2 separate regions of the Homo sapiens genome follow, and region 1 is linked to region 2. Evidence: fine-mapped expression QTL. A gene starts in region 2. The other region holds a variant in brackets. All regions are shown on one strand. Distances are between the middles of the regions.

Region 1 (5,392 bases), 65 kb after region 2:
ATTTCATAAACATTGGGCTCACGGCCAGCACACTATAACTCTTTCGTGAACAAAGCTTATCTAACACATATATTTTGTCCATCAGAGACATCCCAGCCTTCTTATGTTCAGGAACACTAGACGGCATTTCAGCCCCAGGCTTAGGCCATTTGAAAGAGCAAAATCACCAGTAAAAACTGTACAAATGGAGAAATTGTGGCCCTAAATAGATTATGGAAAGGACACTTGATTACGGTATGGGAGCTGAAAAAAGGAGGCTGGGTATGTGGGTCTCAGATGACTCAAATATTTTGCTGCACTGTGAGTATTTAAGTCTAATAATGACAATGCAAGGCTGTAGTATTGACGTTGGGGTTACAAATAAATTTCAGCAGGTACATTAACTGCAAATATGGAAGCTGTAATTTATGAGGATTAACTATATTGACAGATAACTTTGACCCTATAAAAATGGAAAAGTTCCACAAGACAAAAATCTAGACAGACATACAATTCAAGTCAAAAGACCAAAATCAAACTAAGTAAAAATATCTGCAACACATGTCATAGAAATCTAGATAATTTTTTTTTCTTTTTTGAGACGGAGTCTTGCTCTGTTGCCCAGGCTGGAGTGCAGGGGCGCCATCTCGGCTCACTGCAAGCTCCGCCTCCCGGGTTCACGCCATTCTCCTGCCTCAGCCTCCCTAGTAGCTGGGACTACAGTTGCCCGCCACCACGCCCAGCTAATTTTTTGTATTTTTAGTAGAGACGGAGTTTCACCGTGTTAGCCAGGATGGTGTCGATCTCCTGACTTTGTGATCCACCGACCTTCGCCTCCCAAAGTGCTGGGATTACAGGCGTGAGCCACCGCGCCCGGCCGGTAATTTTTTTAATCTACTAAGCATTCTTCAACATCACTGTAAAAAAAGGACCAGCATCCTGTCATTTGCGACAACACGGAGGAACCTGGAAGATATTATGCTAGGTGAAATCAGCCAGGCACAGAAAGACAAATACCCAGTGATCTCACTTATACATGGGATCTAAAACAGTTGGACTCATAGAAGGAGAGATTAAAATGGTGGTTACCTGGGGCTGGGGTGTCGAAGCGGGTGGGGTAGGTGTAGGAAATGGTAAGACGTTGGTTAAAAGGCTCAGAGTATCAAACAGAAGGAATTAAATTCAAAGGAAAAAAAAAGGGAAAACTATCAACAAGTCACAAGAAAAATAGGGAAAGGATGTGAACAAATGGTTCAAAATGTGTAAAAGTATTTTAATAGGTAACCCACTGATACGGTTCGGCAACAAAGTACAAAAGAATGCTTAGTGTAAAATCTTCTCCCATCCCAGTCCCTGGCGCCAAGCAACCCACACCAGAGGCCTCTGACGCTGTTAGCTTCTTGTATGATCTTTTTGAGATGTTTTATGTAAAAATAAGCGTATTTGTGCCTGTGAGAGTGTGATGGGTAATTTCCCTTTTTTGGTTACACTAATGGTAGTATACTATAAAAACAATTATAATTATACACCTAGGTTTTGTTATACTTTTAATATATTGAGGAAATCATTCCATATTTATATTTATTATAGAGCTACCCAGTATTAAAACCTGCCTAGCATTCTATGCTAATAGTGCCATATTAACATTTAATACATGTTGTTTGCTGTATTTTGCCGCTACAAATTACACTACAGATAGGCCAGGCGCGGTATCTCACACGTGTAATCCTAGCACTTTGGGAGGTGTGGCGGGCAGATCTTTTAGCTCAGGAGTTCGAGACCAGCCTGGAAAACATGGTGAAACCCCATCTCTACAAAAAATACAACAACAGTAAAAATAATTAGCTAAGCATGATACACGTGCCTGTAGTCTCAGCTACTTGGGAGGCTGAGGTAGGAGGACAGATTGAGTCTGGGAGGCAGAGGTTGCAGTGAGCCGAGATGGTGCCACTGCATTCTAGCCTGGGTGGCATAGTGAGACCCTATCTGAAAAAAAAAAAAAAAGTCTCACAAATAATATTCTTTAAATACCTCTGTGCAAATCAACAACTACATCTATAGTAAATATCTTTTTGCCAATTTGTATCTTTTGAATTTTGTACTATATACATTTTTTAAACTATTCAATAAATAGGGTCATATTTTCATTGCAAAATGAAAGATGCATTTTAATGAAATTGAAGTTAAAGAAGAAAGAAATGAAAAAGAAAGAAGTTCAAAGGGATGAGGAGAAGAAAAGACAGATGGTAATATGACTGTCCTCTAAAGGAAATGGTTTCTGTTGCTAGGTTTTTCCACTTAGCTAAAGTCATCAGCTGTTTGATGAATAGACAATAGTTTGGATTAAAAAATATTTAAAATTCTTTTATTGTTCACATTCAAGATTTAAACATGAAGGCCATTAGAAATGAATAGGGGCAAATCAAGAGTTCTAGGGCACTGGAAGCATGTCAGGAGAAAAGACCTCTGTTTCCTTCTTATTACAAAATGCTCTCTGAACAGGCCCTCCTCATTCTAAAGATGTATGAGTCTGATTTTATTAATATCATTGAAGTAACTTT[C/G]CCTTTCATTTCTCCTAAAGTATCCCTCGAGCCAATGAAAAAGCAAATGAATTGCAAGGTTATTTTTCTTAAAATAGGACCATCGTCTTTTGAAATACACAGGATTTTAATTTTAAAATACTTTGTGAATTATATTTTCCCCATGATTGCCTTCAAACAGAGGGTACTTTTTCTCATAATCATTATTGGGAACAGTGTGGCTACGAGATCAAAGAAATAATATCATAGAAATAATATGGTCACATTTACGTAGAAATAATAATCCTGGAATTGTTTTCTTTTTCTTTTTTGAGACAAAATCTAACTCTGTCATCACCTAGGCTGGAGTGAGGTGATGCTACCCCAGCTCACTGCAACCTCCACCTCCTGAATTTAAGTGATTTTTTTCTGCCTCAGCCTCCTGAGTAACTGGGATTACAGGTACCTGCCACCACACCCAGCTAATTTTTGTATTTTTAGTAGAGAGGGGTTTCATCATGTTGGCCAGACTGGTCTCGAACTCCTGCCCTCAAGTGATCCGCCCACCACAGCCTCCCAAAGTGCTAGGATTATAGGCATGAGCCACCGCGCCAGACCCCAAATTTTATTTTTTATTCATATATTCTCCACTGTCTCAGCTGGCATTAATGAATCTTAAGTTTGCTTTTACTGTATCATAATTTTGAAAGTGCCTAGTAAGGAGGGGTTATTAGTGTCCTGATGTATTTCAGAAGCAGCAAACTAATCATCTTTGAATAGTGGTAGATATCTTTTCAGGTAGAAAAATTTCATCAGTAATGCCAATAAGTACAAATATAGGCTCTAATGATTTCTTTTAATATTTCTGGAAAGTAATTAGATTATATATCTGTGATAGAATATAATACTAAGTATTAGACTGTAGAAGGCTTTGTTTCAAGGTGGTTTATTCATTCATGTTACTACCTACCTCAATCATAACATCAGTAAGACCTCAATGATCTAAATATTTGGGCTTTGTAAATCCTGAATTACTTAGGTCTCTGCTACTGGAAAGTGAATATCAAAAATTGTCTATTTAAGAAAAAAAGTAGTTTTTATAATCTGAGTTGTATACTGGACCCATAGAGATCATTTTAAATGTAGCAATGAATAGAGATTGGATAAAAACAATGTTAAAAATTCTTTTCTAATTCAAGTTCAAATTTTAAAAATTTGAAAGGCATGTTTTAGTGTATAAATAATAGAAAAGTTGTTGACAGTTGTTTGTTTTGCAGTCAGCAAGTGGTAAGAATCTTTGGAGAGACAACAGGAGAATAAAAGCCGAAACATGCGTATATACAAAATGAAATATGAATGTGAGCTTAGAGGCTACACGTGGTCTCTCGGATACTAGAACTATCTTTCTTGCCTTGGACCAGCTAACGTGCCTTGGTTGCGCCAGTGTACTGAGCCCTGTGGACATCACCTCATTAAATATTCAATAAATGTTATTTTTTTCCTATTGCCTTTCTCTCTTCTATATGAGAATCTGTAAGTATTCGCCGAAGGCTTTTCTTTTGCTTTTGTGAATACCTTCACACCATGTTGTATTCTGTCTTGGTTAGTTAAAAAAAAAAAAAAAGTTGGCCAGGCACAGTGGCTTGCACCTGTAATCCCAGCACTTTGGGAGGCCGAGGCAGGCGGATCACCTGAGGTTGGGAGTTCGAGACCAACCTGACCAACATGGAGAAACCCGTCTCTACTAAAAATACAAAATTATCCGGTCATGGTGGCACGCGCCTATGATCCCACCTACTCGGGAGGCTAAGGCAAGAGAATTGCTTGAACCCGTGAGGCAGAGGTTGCAGTGAACCGAGATTGCGCCACTGCACTCCAGCCTGGGTGACTGAGGGAGACTCTGTCTCAAAATAAATAAATAAATAAAAGGTTAATTATATTTCTTGTTATGAGACAAATGAAGTATTTCACATTTTCCATTGAGGATAGCATGTAACGCAGGTTTTTCTCTTATAGGTTGTGGGACTGGAAAATATCTTAAAGTGAACAGCCAGGTACATACCGTGGGCTGTGACTACTGTGGGCCACTGGTAGAGATTGCCCGGAATAGAGGATGTGAAGCCATGGTATGTGACAACCTTAATCTCCCCTTTAGGGATGAGGGCTTCGATGCCATCATCTCCATAGGAGGTAAGGCAGCCAGATCACACATTCACCCTTTGCCATGAGAATAATTGACCCGGTTTAGTCCGTTCTCATGACTCAACATCCGTTCTGTGTAGAAATGTCAATGTAATTTATTTTATCTAATTTAAAAAAATTGTTTCAACTACTTGACTGATTTGACTTAACTCCAAAATGTATTTATGGCACATATGATTGTTTTAACTATTTAAACCTTCAACTTGGTATTGCAGTTTTTTTATGATTCATTCCAATTTCTTTTGAGTAAGAAAGGATTAGAGGAATCTTACTCATTGAAAATAGCACTTCATTATATTTAAATGAAGCCAGATTAATCCAAAGCAAAGTAGATTTTTAGAAGTTATATTACCATTTTTTAGGCCAAAATAGTGGCCTTTGTTAACAGAGAATTCTAGGGCTAACAAACCAAATGTCACCTGGACCAATCTGCCACTCACTGGTACTCAAGTTCATGGAGAAGGTAGGTCCCATCTGGTCTTGGATTGCATTGTTTTTATAATGCCACTCTGCTCATTTGCTGCCAGAGATCGTTCATGAGTCTAGGGAATGTGTTTCTCATATCCTCCCAACAAGTGTGACCAGAAAACACACATGCCAAAAAATGGGGGGAAAAAATCCATGCCTGAAATACATGCAGGTAAGGAATACATGACATCTGCCATATTTAAATATGCAGGGAAACTTGATAT
Region 2 (5,392 bases):
GTGTCACAGAACTCGGGTTATTTGAACTCTGAGAGGAAGGCTGAAGAAGATTAGTATTGTCTTGCTTGCTCTCAGAAGATAAGAGCTGTGCTTTGACAATTGCAAATAGTTTTCGAACAAAATTTTCTTATGGCACAGCTTTCTGAAACTATTTTACAATGCGTTAACTTCTAGTAACATACATTAGGATCTAATCTTAAGTATTAATTTATTTGAAAATATCTCAAAACTTGTATCCCCCAAAAAGTTCAAAATATATCTCCAGAGAAAAATAAAAACCAACTATCTCAAAATTCACCCTTTGTTTTCCCCAGAATCAAATCTCTAGGGATGACACGAGCACAGGTGAGTGCACAAGTGCACATAATGCACACACACACACACACACACACACACAGAGTGACCCTATTTCTCCATTTTTCCTAGAGCTGACTGTCATACAAACCCAAGATTACCATTACTAATAGGTAGATCTCATCAAGACACTTAGCCAGGGAGCCAACATTTGCCTTCACCTAAAAAACAGGATGTAAATACAATAGGTAATTTATTTTTGACATAGACATAAAATAGCTTTTTACGGTGAGAATGATGAGGTCATTGTGACTTCTACACTTGAAACAATTGGACTTTCTCGTACTTTTGCACTTGAGAATTTAAAATAATAATAAAGAGAACGAAAGAGTACTATGTTGGTACTGCTCCTCACATATTTCATTGGTAAGAGCAGTGATGAAATAGCAATAAAATTTATGAGACAAGAGTTGTGGCTATAAATAGGGATATGCTTTGCTCGCAAACTGCATAGAATCCCCTTCCCTTTAAAAAATATATAGAAGAGGCCAGGTGTGGTGGCTCATGCCTGTAATCCCAGCGCTTTGGGGGGCCAAAGTGGGTGGATCACCTGAGGTCAGGAGTTTGAAACCAGCCTGACCAACATGGTGAAACCCTGTCTCTACTAAAAATACAAAAAAATTAACCAGGCCTGGTGGCACGCGCCTGTAATTCCAGCTACTTGGGAGGCTGAGGAAGGAGAATCACTCGAACCTGGGAGTCAGAGATTACAGTGAGCTGAGATTGCACCACTGCACTCCAGCCTGAGGGACAGAGCAAGTCTGCCTCTCTCAAAAAAAAAAGTATATATATATATATATATATATATATGAAAATAAAATTCCATCACCTAGAGAAAATCACTAGTCACATTTTTGTATGGTTGTCCAGCATTTTCCCCTACATATATGTAAATATACTATATAATGTTAAAATATTGGGGTGAAACTGCTTTTTATTTAACACTGCATTGTATCTCCAGGTCATTAAATTGTCTTCAGGATCATGGCTCTGCATTTTTTAACATGTAGTTGCTCCCTTATTTATATAACACATTCTCTGTTGGTGAAATTTATTGTATTTTTTTGCAGTTTTTCTTTTCCTACCATGACAAATAAGCTCATCTTTTCCAGTCCTTGTTCATTCAAAGCTGGAAACAAACAACACACACACCCAAATCAGACCTGAGATTCTATGCACAAAAGTGCTTCTTGAAACAAATTATCTAATAGTATTGTAAAAAGAAAAAAAAAGAGATAAAATAAGCCAAGTGATATGTGTCACTCAGTGTTCCAGCGAAAAGCTGACTCCAAAAATTACGTGATCATAATAGCAGAATGATGAAAGAGTGACAGACAAAAGGTAAGAGCATGAGGATGAAGAGGTAATACTCAAACAGCTTTGGAAATGGAGAGGAAGCTGGCGAATGACACAAAGGACAGCTGGAGGATGAACCAGTTTCCCAAGGGGCAAAAGAAACAATGTTGTTTGACATCTTCAGCAAACATTCCAAACTGTAGGGAAGAGGGATGATGGGTTTGTGTTGGTGATAACAGCAAAGTATTAAAGCATGCCTAAAAACTTTCACCATAAAGCAACAATTATTCTTGGTAATGCTACCAGGATAACAAGTTTCTACATGTTGTCATGCTGGCAAAGAAAATAGGGTGTATTTAGAGATTAGATGCCCCATGGACATGTGGTCATGGAAACAAAAGCAAACAGCTAACGTGGCTATGTGTTGAGGTCAGTATTTGAGGGAACATCCGGTGTGTGTTTTATTCAGTATTGTGTAGTACAGAAAAGATCACACATGTATATGTCAGAAGTAGATGCACATGTTCTTTTGGCTTTTTTTCTTTGTTTTATTCTTTTTTCATTTTTTGTGTTTTTTGTTAGTTTGTTTTGAATTTTTTTTCTTGATGCATATGTTCCTTCAACTTATTCAGTACTTCCATGTGCAGGGCTCTGGACTAGACTTTCAGGATCTAAGGCTGAATCCTACACAGTCCTCCCTCTGGGAAAGTGATGAAACCTGTGAGCTCTCCTAGCAACTCTGCAGTCTTCCTTCAAGGTATGTGTTGCAATTTGGGGTTGCACATTTTAGTTGTGATATTTGTGATTAGTTGATTAATGTTTGTCATCCCACGAGACTATAAGTGCCATGAGGGTAGATATCTTATCTGTTTTGCTCCCCATTGCTTTTCTCACAGACTGCTCAGCAATGAATCTTTGTTGAATAAAATAATACTTTATACAAAGGTTAGTGATAAATGTAAGAAGCATCTAGATCAAGAACTGATACATTCTTAGGACAGAAAGATTAATCTAGACAATAGCTTTTTGTCTGGAATTATCTTTTATGGAAGAGACGGCCTTGGCAATCAGAAGAGCAGATTAAGCAATTAGTGTAATCATCTAGGTGGGAAGTAATGGGACATAAAGAACTAGAATAGAAACAATAAGAAGGGAGCAGAGTTGATAAATAAAAGCAGTACAGATACAAAATTGTCAGACGGTGGTCACCCATGGGCTATGAAGGGCAAGAAGAAGCAGAGTCTAAGAATGTGCCAGGTGACTGGGAGGACGGAGATTGTAGAAGAAAGAAAAGGGCAGCTGCTTTAGGTGCACGGAGGGCGAAGGACCTCAGGTTCGAATGTGTTGATGTCACCCTGGTGGAGATGTCAAGCAAGATGAGAGCATGGGATCTGCAGGTTTATGAGAAGACCAATTCAGAGAAACAGAATTTTGAGAAATCTACACAGCGTTTTTCCTTGCAGTTAGAAAGGTGGATGAGGTTGTCTAGGGAGATTATATAGAGAGAAAAGCAGAGGACCAAGGACAGGTGCTTGAGAAATGATGAGACTTGGCAGGACTACTTTTTTAAAAGTTCAGGAAGAAAGAGAAGAAGTGGCATTTCTCTTTTTGGTGCATAAAACCCTATAAGAGAAGAAACCATCCTATTCCCAATGCCAGGAAGTTCCCTATGTACCTTGAGAAGGTCTTCCAGGTTTCAGAGGTGTGGAAGATATCAGTTCCTTGGATAAAGGCAGCAGCTACACACTTTCTAGCAGCAAAATGGCTGAAGAACTGAAGGGTTTAGGATTTAGGAGATGGCTACTGGGACTCCAGCCCGTGAACATCCCAAAATGACAAAGACAGCTCTTGGTTAGCATGTCTGTCTCTAAATTGTGCTGACTAATAAACAGCTGTGAGCTCTTTGATTCTCAGTCCATTCTGACTGGGTCACTGTGGGGAATCCTTTAAAACCAATGAGGCCATAAAGCTTGAGCTTTGCCTATCCCTGTTGTTGGAATATTTTGTCTCCAGTCTCCTAAAGATCAGTCTGAGAGACTGGAACACACCTCACAATTTCTTCCTGCAATCTGAAGTTAAGCTCACCCGGGTCTACCATTCAGCCTGGTGATGATTCCACTTCCTTATGCATCAAGATGTTATCATGCTAAACTAGCTAAAACCACTAAAAAAATATGGGATGACTTGGAAAGGTGGAGAAAAGTGGGTAAAAATACAGTAATTTTTTTGGTAAGTCTCCATTAAGCTAATAATAGGTAAGCACCCTCAATGGCTAAGAGCCAGTACCTTAGACCACGTCCTTGAATAAAATAGATGGTCAAGGCTGAAGTGAATGAAATGGTGACATAAGCATCATGCAGCACATTTTGAGGCTTATGGCAACACATGCATATTAATGCAAATATGTGCATTGAGTTCTAAGTGCTAAGGACTGTGATAGCCAATGAGGATAAGTAAAATAATGGTCAAAAGCTTTAGGAAAAGAACTTACGTGAATTCCTTACTTAAATGCCATAACTTAAGAGACTTCAGGTGTGCAGTATTTATTACATAAGCTGGAGAAATTTCATGCTTTGCTAGGCAACAGCCTTGTAGTCCACAGGACATGCTAGATAGCTCCTTTGGTTGATTGAATTGGTCACATTTGGAAAGTGTGCAGCCTATGTATAAGGAAGCATTGGGGCTGCCTTGCTCAGAAACAGGCAGTGAGTAAGGCAGGCATTCAAGGAATCATGGCCGGCCATCTGTAGCCTTAAGAGGTGTGTGCCAGACCCAGGGAGTTGACTAATAAAGAAACTGAGTTAACTGAGAAAGGTCATAATAATATTATATAGTACTGTTGCTCCTTGACTTACGATGGGGGTTACATCCTAATAAACCCATTGTAAATGGAAAGTGTTGTAAAATGCATTTAACACACCTAACCTACTGAACATGATAGCTTGGTTTAGCTTAGCCTTAAAATGTGCTCAGAACACTTACATTAACCTGCAATTGGGCAAAACCATCTAAGACAAAGCCTATTTTATAATAAAGTGTTGAATATCTCATGTAATTTATTGAATCCTGTAGTAAAAATGAAAGACAATGGTTGTATGAGTACTAGAAGTATAACTTCTTGTGAATATGCATTGCTTTCAAATCATCATAAAGTTGAAAAATTGTAAATGAACCATCGTAATTCAAGGAACATCTGTATATATAATATATATAATATATTCTGTTATATATAAATATATGTATGTATATAACACATAATACAATAATTTATATTATATAAATATATTAAAATATATAATACATGTGAATATATATTCATATTGCATATATATTTACATTGCATATGAATATATAATATATAAGTATATAAATTATATGCATGATATAATAATAAAATGTAATGATAAAGAAACTTAGTTAACTAAGCAACACACAGTGAAGTTAAGTGTAACATTAGAAAAAAACAGAAGGCCAGGCACGGTGGCTCATGCCTGTAATCCCAGCACTTTGGGAGGCCAAGGCGGGTGGATCACGAGGTCAGGAGATCGAGACCATTCTGGCTAACACGGTGAAACCTCATCTCTACTAAAAATACAAAAACTTAGCCGGGCATGGTGGCAGGCGCCTGTAGTCCCCGCTACTTGGGAGGCTGAGGCAGGAGAATGGCGTGAACCTGGGAGGCGGAGCTTGCAGTGAGCCGAGATCGCACCACTGCACTCCAGCCTGGGTGACAGGGCAAGAC

Direction of the effects. Positions count from the first base shown, and alleles are read on the strand shown. Sizes are in standard deviations (SD) of each study's normalised expression.
For the expression in sun-exposed skin of the gene that starts at base 2,114 in region 2, allele C in region 1 goes with a lower level than allele G (small effect, 0.25 SD a copy in GTEx).

What was found. PIP is the estimated chance that this variant, and not a neighbour inherited with it, causes the effect.
Region 1: its variant is the best candidate, but not a certain one, in a credible set for the expression of TRMT9B in sun-exposed skin (GTEx, PIP 0.55).

What each region holds. Positions count from the first base shown.
Region 1 is chr8:13,008,170-13,013,561 of GRCh38, forward strand. It overlaps TRMT9B (tRNA methyltransferase 9B (putative)), which reads left to right. Exons shown (of 5, transcript NM_020844.3): 4 at 4,515-4,688. The region is part of intron 4 of LOC124901889 (a long non-coding RNA gene); the gene reads right to left. Among named protein-coding and RNA genes, the nearest start is that of TRMT9B, 65 kb to the left of the region's middle. The variant C/G (reference allele first, on the strand shown) is at 2,541.
Region 2 is chr8:12,943,560-12,948,951 of GRCh38, forward strand. It overlaps TRMT9B (tRNA methyltransferase 9B (putative)), which reads left to right and starts at 2,114. Exons shown (of 5, transcript NM_020844.3): 1 at 2,114-2,407.